Linked DNA regions of Homo sapiens: region 2 is linked to region 1. The links come from fine-mapping of genetic effects on gene expression. A gene starts in region 1. The other region holds a variant in brackets. All regions are shown on one strand. Distances are between the middles of the regions. Region 1 holds the start of RYR2 (ryanodine receptor 2). Region 2 overlaps RYR2 (ryanodine receptor 2).

What was found. PIP is the estimated chance that this variant, and not a neighbour inherited with it, causes the effect. A credible set is the group of variants that fine-mapping cannot tell apart.
Region 2: its variant is the best candidate, but not a certain one, in a credible set for the expression of RYR2 in esophagus mucosa (GTEx, PIP 0.88).

Annotation. Positions count from the first base shown.
Region 1 is chr1:237,039,205-237,044,580 of GRCh38, reverse strand. RYR2 (ryanodine receptor 2) reads right to left here and starts at 2,397. Exons shown (of 105, transcript NM_001035.3): 1 at 2,012-2,397. The coding sequence starts at 2,059.
Region 2 is chr1:237,109,310-237,114,685 of GRCh38, reverse strand. The region is part of intron 1 of RYR2 (ryanodine receptor 2); the gene reads right to left. Among named protein-coding and RNA genes, the nearest start is that of RYR2, 70 kb to the right of the region's middle. The variant A/G (reference allele first, on the strand shown) is at 2,365.

The sequences.
Region 1 (5,376 bases):
TGTTTTATTAAAAGAAAAATCCCAGCCTGGGACTGCCAGATCTCTACCCAGGACCCACTTATCAAAGGTGCTGCTCTAGCTGACAGGCAGCTGCTGAGTGGCACAGAGTTGACATTACTTGATATGTGCAGAACCTCATCAGCCAGCACGTTCCCTCGGTCCCCATTAAGCATTCTGATAACACCACCTCCATGAGCTCGGCTTAACAGTTAAGCCCGCAGGAAGCCCTTGAGTGCATGAAGCCTACCAAAATGTCCCAGCTAGTTTTAACCCCACAGAGTTTGATACGAATTGATTGAAAAATTATACAGCAACCGTATTTGTCCACCTGAATAAAATAGTCCTTAGTTTTGAGAAAAATCTAATGTGGTGTTAATTACTTAAAAAAAAAAAAACCCTTATAGTCTATTTTCTATGAAAAAGACAACTGTATTACTAGCAGGTTTATACACCGTGACCAAGGTATTAGTGAAGAGGCTCTTCCAAGCCCGGTCTTGGGCCAACAGTACTTCAAAAAGCATATGCAATGGTGCATAACCTGCAGCTATTAGACTGGATTACTATTAGGTTGTCATCTGATGTGGACCCTGGGTTTTTATCCTTCCCAAAGCTTTCTCCCAGTCCGTTTAATGCACAAAAGAGAAAGAGACAGTCGTTTACAACGTTCCTTTGCAAATTCGCTGTTTTCATATGTTTAGTACCCAAATACATCAAGACTATTTTCACACCTAAAAGTTAATATTCCAAAATTCCACCGTATCTACGATTTTCTGTGATTATAGGTAACTGTAACCGGGAAGTGGTTTTGTTTGTTTGTTTGTTTTGTTTTGTTTTGTTTTTGTACTGCTGAGGAAAGAAGTACCAGCAGAAGCTGCAGTTCTAGGTTGGGGAAGTCTGGGGAATCCTGCAAGGGAACATCCTTCGGGAAGGAGGACAGAAGTGGAGAAGGAACGACTGAAAGGATGCTAACTAGGTTATTATTAGCAGGAAGTTAGGGCATTTTCTTTTCTGGAGAGGCTCTCCAGTCCCAGCTTGGAGGTGTGCAATGCCTCAGCCTGGGAAGTATCTGCAGTGTTCGAACAAATGAGAGAAAGGAAGGAGCAGTGCCAAGAGGTACTTAAGGAGAAAGAATTGTATTAGTGTGGAGCCAACCTTTCCCGGGCAGCCACCCTGCCCTTACACTTACACACACACACTTTGCTTCACTTGGCATGCAATAAGCCAGCATTTAGAGAACGACACGTTCACGATGTTCTCCCCACCACCACCCGCGCGCGCGCACACACGCAAACACACGCTCGCTTCCCATGCCTTCCACGCTTTGCAAGCGGTCACAGCACCACCACGGATGGCACCAGCCCCGGGAACCGCGGGGACCACGGAGGCGACTCCTCCTCCGCTTTCGCAGCACCTTGACTTGGGGGAAACCTCCGCGCAGCGTCCTGCACCATCACCCCCGCCCCCGGTCAGCTGCGCCGCACGCTACACGGAGTAAGCGAACCAACGTCTTCGCTCCGTGACAACGCGCGGGTCCAGCCCGAAAGCCCAAGAAACCTCCCGGCGGCGGTATTCCCAGAAACAGCCCGAGTTCCCGCCGCTCCCCGCGCCCCCACGGGCCACCCTGCTCTGCACCCTGCCCCCGGCCGCCCGGGAGGTCCCAGCCGTGCCACCAGGCAGGCCGGACCGGCCGTCCCCTCCTCTCCCGGTTCCCGCAGCTCCGACGCTCCTGTCCCCGGTGCCCCGGGTCCGAGCCCGGGCGCCTGCCGCCGGCTAGCCGCGCTCCATCCTCTAGCTTTCCACACGCGCGCACAGACACGCGCCCTTGCCTTCCCTCGCCCCAACACGCACACCTGCACACACTTGGTGATGCCCGCTCCTCCCGCATCCTCAGGGGGCACCCCCTCGCCCCGCCCGCGAGTCCCCGCTGCCCGCTGTCACTCTGCCCGGACCCCGCTAGTGGATGCCCTGACGCCCCCTTCCCCTGACAGCACACGCGACGCACGGCGCTTACAGTTCGCAGGAACTGGATCTCGTCTTCGCCCTCGCCCCCATCGGCCATGGTTCCGCGCCTCCTCGCCGGGGCCGGCTCCCGAGCCCCGCGGAGCTCGGCGGCGGCGGCGGCCCCTGGCGCTGCCTTCTGCTTCTGCTGCCGGGAGCCGGGGGCTGGAGGGGGCCGCGCTGCCGGGTGCCGAGCGCCGGGCGGTCCCCGCCTGCAGAGCGGAGGAGGAGGCGCGGACGCTCGGGCGCGGGTGGTCGAGGCGCGGGGCCTCCCTGCTCCGCACTGTGCGGGAGGAGGGCGGCCCGGGCCCGGAGGACGCGGGGAAGCAGCCCCGCAGCCCAGCCGCGCTCGCTGCCTGCAGCCGGCGGTCCGCTCGGCCCCGGCTCCTCCGAGCAAGTGCGCGGAGCCAGCTGAGCCGGGGTTAGTGCAGCGGTGGGGGTGGGGTGTGGGGGCGGGCGGGGAGGAGCTCGGCGGCTCCCCGCTGCTGCAGGTAATCCGCAGCCCGCTCCTCCGGGCCGCCAAACCCGAGGCCCAGCGCCACTTACTGGCTGCGCTGGGAATCGGGGCCGGAGCGCACCCGGCGAGCGCACAGCCTCCTACCTGCGCCCCGCTGGGGTCCCTGGGCTCATTCCCCTGCCCCTTCCGAGCTTAAAACCGCCGGCACGACGCCCCTTCCTCCTGGACTGGGCTAGGGCACTAACTTCCACGGCACTTCGGATCGCACGGAAGAATGATATCTTTCACCTGGGCGCACGGGGTGGCTAATCTCCAAGTAGAGATTACGCAACACCTGGTATTTTAAACGTGGATTACCTCTATTCATGATCAAATGGGAATTCTTCAAGATCTAGTTTTAGTGTACCATGCTTTTCGCAGATAATCGATGCAAAGTGCACGGTTTTGGTGCACAGAACTTTAACATTCAACAAATATACAGTGAGCGCCTATGCCAGACAATGTGGTACAAGACAGACCCAGAAGTGTGTAGTCTGTATTCGAAGTGCAAGCCTTAATTCAACAAGGAATTGCGGTAAAGTATGGGATACTATCTATAAGTCTGAACCACTGGATGGGTCTAAAGTCAGACTGTGCTACCCATTATCCTTGCTGAGAGAAGAAATTCGAGCATTCCACCGCAGATAGTAATATCTTGCTCTCGCAATCCTCCATGCAATAGTCTACCAAATGCCTACTTAACAAACGGCTATGACTAAGAAAATACAGGGTCTGAGACAATTTGGACAAGAAAGCAATTTGTCTCTTGTTCCTAGTCCACAGCGCTTTCATTTATCGTACTTAAAATAAGTATGTGCAAAGTAAAGTTTTCAAATGTCAGTACTACGGAGATGCAGACATTGTAAAACAAGGATTTTTGCGTCCGTTTACCTACATCTTACATTCTGCGGCATCTAACTCATTATTAAAATCGACCACTGAGTTCTATACAGTTTATATTTTATTTTTAGCATTCATTAACTTTGTACTTACTGGGGTAGGTTTGTAAATTTCCAGGAGAATGACAATATGTGTATAAATACTCGCTGTCCGTGGTAGAACTAGTAATGTTCTGCCCTATCTCATGGAAGTATACCAGTCACCTTACCTAAAAACTTGACCTATCCCTGTAGCCATGACGACTAACCAACTCTTAAACCGTTATTATTTATGTGAATGTTTACTCTTACGAGTCTCTAAAGGAACAACCAGTGAGCTCCCAAAAAGTCGGGTAAGAGTCCTCCATGAGCAATGACTATATTCTGAAATTGGCTCCTGATTTAATGTTAAATGATTTGATCTTCCAAATTTAGAACGTATCAAATTGACGTTTTAAACTATTTTATTCAGAACTATGCAGAGACAGGTTTCTTAATTACTCCATTCTACCCAGATGGTAGGTAAAATAATATAAAAACGCTTACCACGTCTTCATTTTGGCATTTTAACTAGGCTGTAAACTGTTCTAGCAAGAGTTATGGTTATTATTTCTTTAGTTCTCTCAATGTAAGTGGAATAATGCTAAAAGGCCTAGACACTCGATGTTTCTTATTCACCCCATACAGTCTTCAACAGCAAGTAGACATAGAGCAGAGACTATTTATAAAACACACCGTGTATGTGGACTTTAAAACACAAAAATACAAAACTATGAGGTTTATAGATCTCTAGTCTGTTCTAAAAGTATAAAAATATGTTTGAGAATGATATACAACATTTATTTTTAAAAAGAAAACCAAAGCAAATATAACAAGTGTTTTAATACTGGTGATGGGCATATTGGTGGAATATTATTTTTGGTACTCTGATATTCTGTTATATTTCATAATTACATAACAAAATAATTTTTACAAGAAAGCAACTTCAGTGAAAGCTATGGAAACTTTTTACTTATAGCTTTTTTAAAAAAAATTTAACCCTTTTGGATAATTTAGTTATAATTCCCTAGTTTCTTCTTCTGGTGGACAATTGTAGTAAGAATTCCAGTGCAGAGATCATAGGATACTAACTAACCTCAATTTTAAGTGTACTTGAGAAAAAATACATAAAATTTGGATACAGCTTAAAGTTTATGTTTACTGTATTTAATTCTTATTGTAGACTCAGACTAAAAGAAATTAACAAGTAGACCTTTTTCTAGGCACAAAACTATAGTTCATTAAATAGAAAAAAATTATTTACAATTTTCATTAGAAAATAGTATTTGATATCTATATATTTTGTAATTTTTATTAAAATATTTATTGGCTGGGCATAATGGCTCACACTTGTTATCCCAGTGCTTTGAGAGGCCAAAACAGGAGGATTGCTTGAAGCCAGGAGTTCAAAACGAGCCTGGGCAATGGAGACCTCATCTCTACCAAAAAAAAAAAAAATTTTAATTAGCTAGGCATGGTGGCACAAACCTGTAGTTCTAGCTACTGGGAGGTTGAGGTAGGAGGATTGCTTGAGCCCAGGAGTTTGAGGCTGCAGTGAGCTATGATCAAGCCACTACCCTAGTAACAGAGCAAGACCTGATCTCAAAAAAAAAAAAAAATTCTCTTTTTCTAAATTCGTGTTATGTATAATAGCTTATTTTGCTTTTTATTATCTTAATATTGCTTTATTATAATATAATCTTTATATTCAATAGATACTACATTTTAAATCTTTATTAATCATAAAATTATTAATAAAAAGTTTAGAGGATGACATTTCTATGTTTCTTAGTCCAAATTTGGGAAGTATTCTTCTTTATGACTAATTTTATATTCTGCAAGAGAGGGAAAAATTATATTTTTGCTTTTTTAATTAAGAGTTTTTCTGCAGTCATCTAATTAAGAATGGGCCATCGTAGCCCACTTATTCACTTGGCAGGATGCTAGACAGCCTTAAAGAAGAAA
Region 2 (5,376 bases), 70 kb before region 1:
CCTTCCCCCATTATTTTCCTAAATTAAATTTCTCAGTGGAGTCATGCTCTATCCCCTAGGTCTTCTTCCCTCAAGAGTATGATTTCTAAAAGGATTTCCTGGAGTGAGGTAAATGGAAGAGTAGCAGCTTTAAAATCGAAGTATTTCCAAGCTTCTGACAGGGTCCAAGCTCTAAAGTGTCTGAATTCAAATATTTTATACTGTACTCTTCCACTCTGAAATACAAACTTCTTTAATTCAGTGTTACTTGCTAAGGTGAAGATGTCATGTCCATTTCATCACCTTCAAAAGCCTTAATGTGACACAATGTCTTGTCAATAAAAATGTTATGCAAAATTTTATTTGCAAGGCTAAAATTTTAGAGAAAAGATATTACACATATCAAATTTAACAGGGTTTTCAATAAGTAGGAAGAAAAAAGGATTTGGTGGCATCTGGGCCAATCCTAGTAATATTGACCAGGCCAAGTGTGTCCTTGGGAATCCCTGGTTCTTTGACTTTTCTCTACTCTCTAATCCCCGTGAAAATGACTAACCAGAAAAAATCACTTCCATATGGTTTGATATAAACTTATACCAGTTGGATTATTATTTTTCCCTGGGACATCTATATTTTCACGAAATGAAAGTCTCTGCACCCTTTCTAAAGAAATGCCCAGGTGACCATGTACTAGTGGCACAAAGAGCTGAGAGAATAAAAGGCAAGTTGCGTGCATGTTGGAGCGACGTCATGTCAAGACCACCTGTTCTGCCGGAGTCTAAGCAGGGTCCGTGCTGAGTTCTTCATTTCCTTCACTTCAACACTTAAAGAAAAGTTCAGTGCTACAGTTTTATTCTTGTGTGATCTTTAAAAATACTGCACTCAGAGATGTTTAAATAAATGTGATCTAAGTTCATCTCTCTAACACCCAATAGGTGTGAGCCTGCTGAATTCCACCTTGTAGCTCTCTATCCCTTTGCTTGGAAAATTCTGGTTCTTATCTCTTTTCTCACAAGTGTACTATGTGGATTTTTTACACTATTTCATGGCAGTCTGTTCCTCACACATTGATGATGTACCCACTCCCTGGGCCAGGAATTGTGCAAGGAGCTGTGGATTGCAAAAACTAGTATGACATGATTTTGACCTCCAGGGAAGTGACATGCCCTTAAAGGACAATGGGACAGAGTCTTCTAAAAGAGAGGCCGGCTGGACACGATGGCTCATGCCTGTAATCTCAGTACTTTGGAGGCTGAGGCAGGTGGATCATCTGAGGTCAGGAGTTCGAGACCAGCCTGGTCAACATGGTGAAAACTCATCTCTACTAAAAATACAAAAAAATTAGCCAAGCATGGTGGCGCACACCTGTAATCCCAGCTACTCAGGGGGCTGAGGCAGGAGAATTGCTTGAACCCAGGAGGCAGAGGTTACAGTGAGCCGAGATCATGCCACTGCACCCCAGTCTGGGCGACAGAGTGAGATTCCATCTCAAAAAATAAAAATAAAAATAAAAATAAAATAAAATAAATAAAAGAGAGGCCAACAATATCCTATGGCCAGATGGAGGGGAAAAAAGCCCCCTTTCTGAATTTATGAAAACCGAACCTCAGAAACCATTTTTGGCTAAAGAGCTGGGTTTTGTTCTCAATTCCTACTGAGGATCATGTCTTGGATGCAGAAAGGAGAAGGAGCACACTGCTGGTACATGTGAACAGAGTCCCCGTTGAGGTTCCGTGAAGCTTATTTAATAAATAGTTATATGACGCCAGGGCTCTGCAAGGTAGGGCACTTAGGGATAAAAAAGCAAACAACCGAGATACAGGATTAAGGATAAATCAGCTGAATACAAGAATGACAGCAAATTACATGATGGAGCATAAACCAAATAGGAGCCAGAAACAGTTGTTATTTTAAAAGTCAGGAAGAATCATGATCCCCATTCCTAAGAGGCTTACATCCTCATGGGGAGATAAATCAAACAAAAGTGGAGCCCTAAAAACATAAAACCATAATTATTACTATATGTGGGCTGGAAAGGTGGGCCTGGATCAGAGCAAAAAAGCATCAAGTCGTTTAATCCTAGAAATTTGCCTGGAAGGGGAGAGCCATTAGCTAATTTTTTTTTTTTTTTTTTTGATGTTGTAGCTTAGAAAGAAGAGGTAGGGGGAAGTTCTCCTCCCTGCCTAAAGGGTAGCCTGGGCAAAAATTTCTTTAACAGAAAAGGTAAACAAAATAAAAATGGGAATCATGAGGCCAGCTAACTAAAGAGCAGAGAGATAAAAAGAGAGGAGGGGGCCGGGCACGGTGGCTCACGCCTGTAATCCCAGCACTCTGGGAGGCCGAGGCGGGCGGATCACCTGAGGTCAGGAGTTCGAGACCAGCCTG[A/G]CCAACATGGTGAAACCCCATCTCTACTAAAATACAAAAAATTAGCCAGGCGTGGTGGTGGACGCTTGTAATCCCAGCTACTCAGGAGGCTGAGGCAGGAGAATCGCTTGAACCCGGGAAGCGGAGGTCACAGTGTGTTGAGATTGCACCGTTGCACCTAGCCTGGACAACAAAAGCAAAACTCCATCTCAAACAAACAAACAAAAGAGTAGGGGAAGTAGCAAAAACATCCAGTGATGGAGGGGGAACTTACCTACTCTCCTCTATTTGCATACTATCTCATTTAATCCTCCAACTACCCACTAGGGTGCACTCACCCACCACCCACCCCCAACCAATGACAGCTGCTGGGCATGGGCTGCCACTGGGGTGCCAAACAGACAAGGTACCTGCTTTCCAAGGGCTTACAGTGGAGTAAATTACATTTTGTCCTTCTGCCAGTTCTCTAGCTCAGAGAGGTACAATCCTCCAACTTGCCAGAGGTCCTCCCTGCACTAGAACCCTCAAGGAGCAGAATCAGGGCAGGAGCCAGACAGGTTTGTCTGACCTCCAAATCTCAGAGCTTTCTGTTACCCTTGCAGGATAGGCAAAAATGAGCAAAAACTAAAGAGAATCCCAAAGATGGCAAAGATTTCCACTGGATATTTTCTTTTGCCATTTCCATTTACTATCCTGAAGCACACTTCACACTCAGAACTTCAAATGTGCCTTTTTTTTTTTTTTTTTTTTTTAAAGAGACGGAGTCTCATTCTGTCACCCAGGCTAGAGTGCAGCGGCACGACCTCAGCTCACTGCAACCTCCGCCTCCCAGGTTCAAGCGATTCTCCTCCCACAGTCTCCTGAGTAGCTGGGACAACAGGCACCTGCCACCGCGCCCGGCTAATTTTTGTATTTTTGGTAGAGACAGGGTTTCGCCATGTTGGCCAGGCTGGTCTTGAACTCCTGACCTCAAGTGATCCACCTGCCTTGGCCTCCCAATAAGGGTATTGTGAGAAATTGGCAGGGAGGGGAAAGGAATGAATTATAATCATTTCCTCTTCTCCACCCTCTTCTACTCTTGAGGGAAAGAAGAGCAAAATGTAACTGTTGGAAGAGGCAATGGTACAAATACTCCAACAAGCACAGTGCTGTGAATGTCCTCTGAACCAAAAATGTTTCCCTTTCTTAGAGCAGCTCGATACAGCAGTGTCAACAATGTTACCAAACAGATATTCATTTACTTGGTCCAACCTCGAAGCATCCTCACAAAGGACCCAATTGCTCTTCAGAAGGATGTTGAAGCTAGAGAGAAGGAAGACCAGTGGCCCAGTACCAGAGGCTCCAAGCCTGAGACCTGGCATCGTGCTTGACCTTGAAAATGTCATTGAATTCTTGAGTCTCATTAAAGGGGGACTTCACAATTGACCTCACAGGGTTGTGGTAGAGATTAAATAACAAATACAAGCACCTTGCAGCAAAGTGGCTGGTCCCCCAGAAATATGCAAATGTTAGTTGATGCCAAATAGAATATTTCAGTTTGAATTAACCAAAGAGAATGTTTCAGTCCACAGCAGGAGGTTTCAGAGCATTGGTACCCCGAGGGAGAAATGAAGCTGAGATGACGCAGAAGAGTAGAGGAACAGTGCCTACCTGGAAGATAGCAGGTGTGCCCCTACCTGAGACAAATTTGCCAGCTTTGCCTAGAGCGAGAGTTCTCAAAGTGCAGACTCCAAACCAGAGGCATCAGCATCCCTTGGGAACTTAGGGACGTGGATGAAACTGGAAACCATCATTCTCAGCAAACTATCGAAAGGACAAAAAACCATACACCGCATGTTCTCACTCATAGGTGGGAATTGAACAATGAGAACACATGGACACAGGAAGGGGAACATCACACTTCGGGGACTGTTGTGGGATGGGGGGAGGGGGGAGGGATAGCATTAGGAGATATACCTAATGCTAAATGACGAGTTAATGGGTGCAGCACACCAGCATGACACATGTATACATATGTAACTAACCTGCACATTGTGCACATGTACCCTAAAACTTTTAAAAAAAGAAAAAAAAAATGCCCATTTTCAGGCCCCACCTCAGACCCACCTAATCAGAAACTCTGGGGCCAGAGCCCAGCAATCTGCGTTTTAACAAGCTTTCCAGGGGATTCAGATGCACACTCAAGTTTAAGAACTTGAGTAAAAATTAAGTGAGTAAAAGTCAGCAGTAGAGAAAACTTAACTCTATGGGCCTATCATTCCACAAAGAAAATTCATACCAGGATATGGCACAACCCAACATTTCCACGGTTAGAAAGTGGGGCCGGGGGATTAGAATTTCACAGCTTAGCATAGGGGGTACAACTGACAGCACCTTACTGGCCCTGTGTCTGTCTTGTGACCAAGCTGTGGCACCTGTTATTTTGGGCAGTTTTCTCGGTGCACAAAGCCAGGTCATACGCTCAGTGAACATTGCTGAACACCATGAAGGTGACATTTAAAGCAAAAAGGCCCTCACAGAGGTAATCTTCCTTGGAAAATATCAGTAGTCAGGTTGGCAATCATGTAAATTTCCGTTTCCCCTACCTATCCCAGGAAATTATTATTATTATTTTTTTTTTTGAGACGGAGTCTCGCTCTGTCGCCCAGGCTGGAGTGCAGTGTCAGCAAATATTTTTTAAATTTCTGAAATCAATCACATTGCACTGCTGCTGCAGGACACTGCAGAGAGGAGATGCTGCCCATGCACCACCCACAGGCTGCAGGGGCCTCCTCCTGCCCAGGCCCATCACCGAGGCCCTTCGGGAGATTCAGTAGCCTCTATGTGTTGGTGGTTTTAGGGATGGAAAGCATAGATAATCAGATATTGCTCTTAGATTTTCCAAAACAGACAGCTAATGTCACACACAAAAGTCAATGCAAAAAATCTTCCTTTCAAAGCAATTTTCTCTCCATGCCTGAATTTAACTGCATATTCTTTGCCAACTTAAAAAAAAAACCAGCTTTACCATCTTCTAAGATTATATTTCTCAAT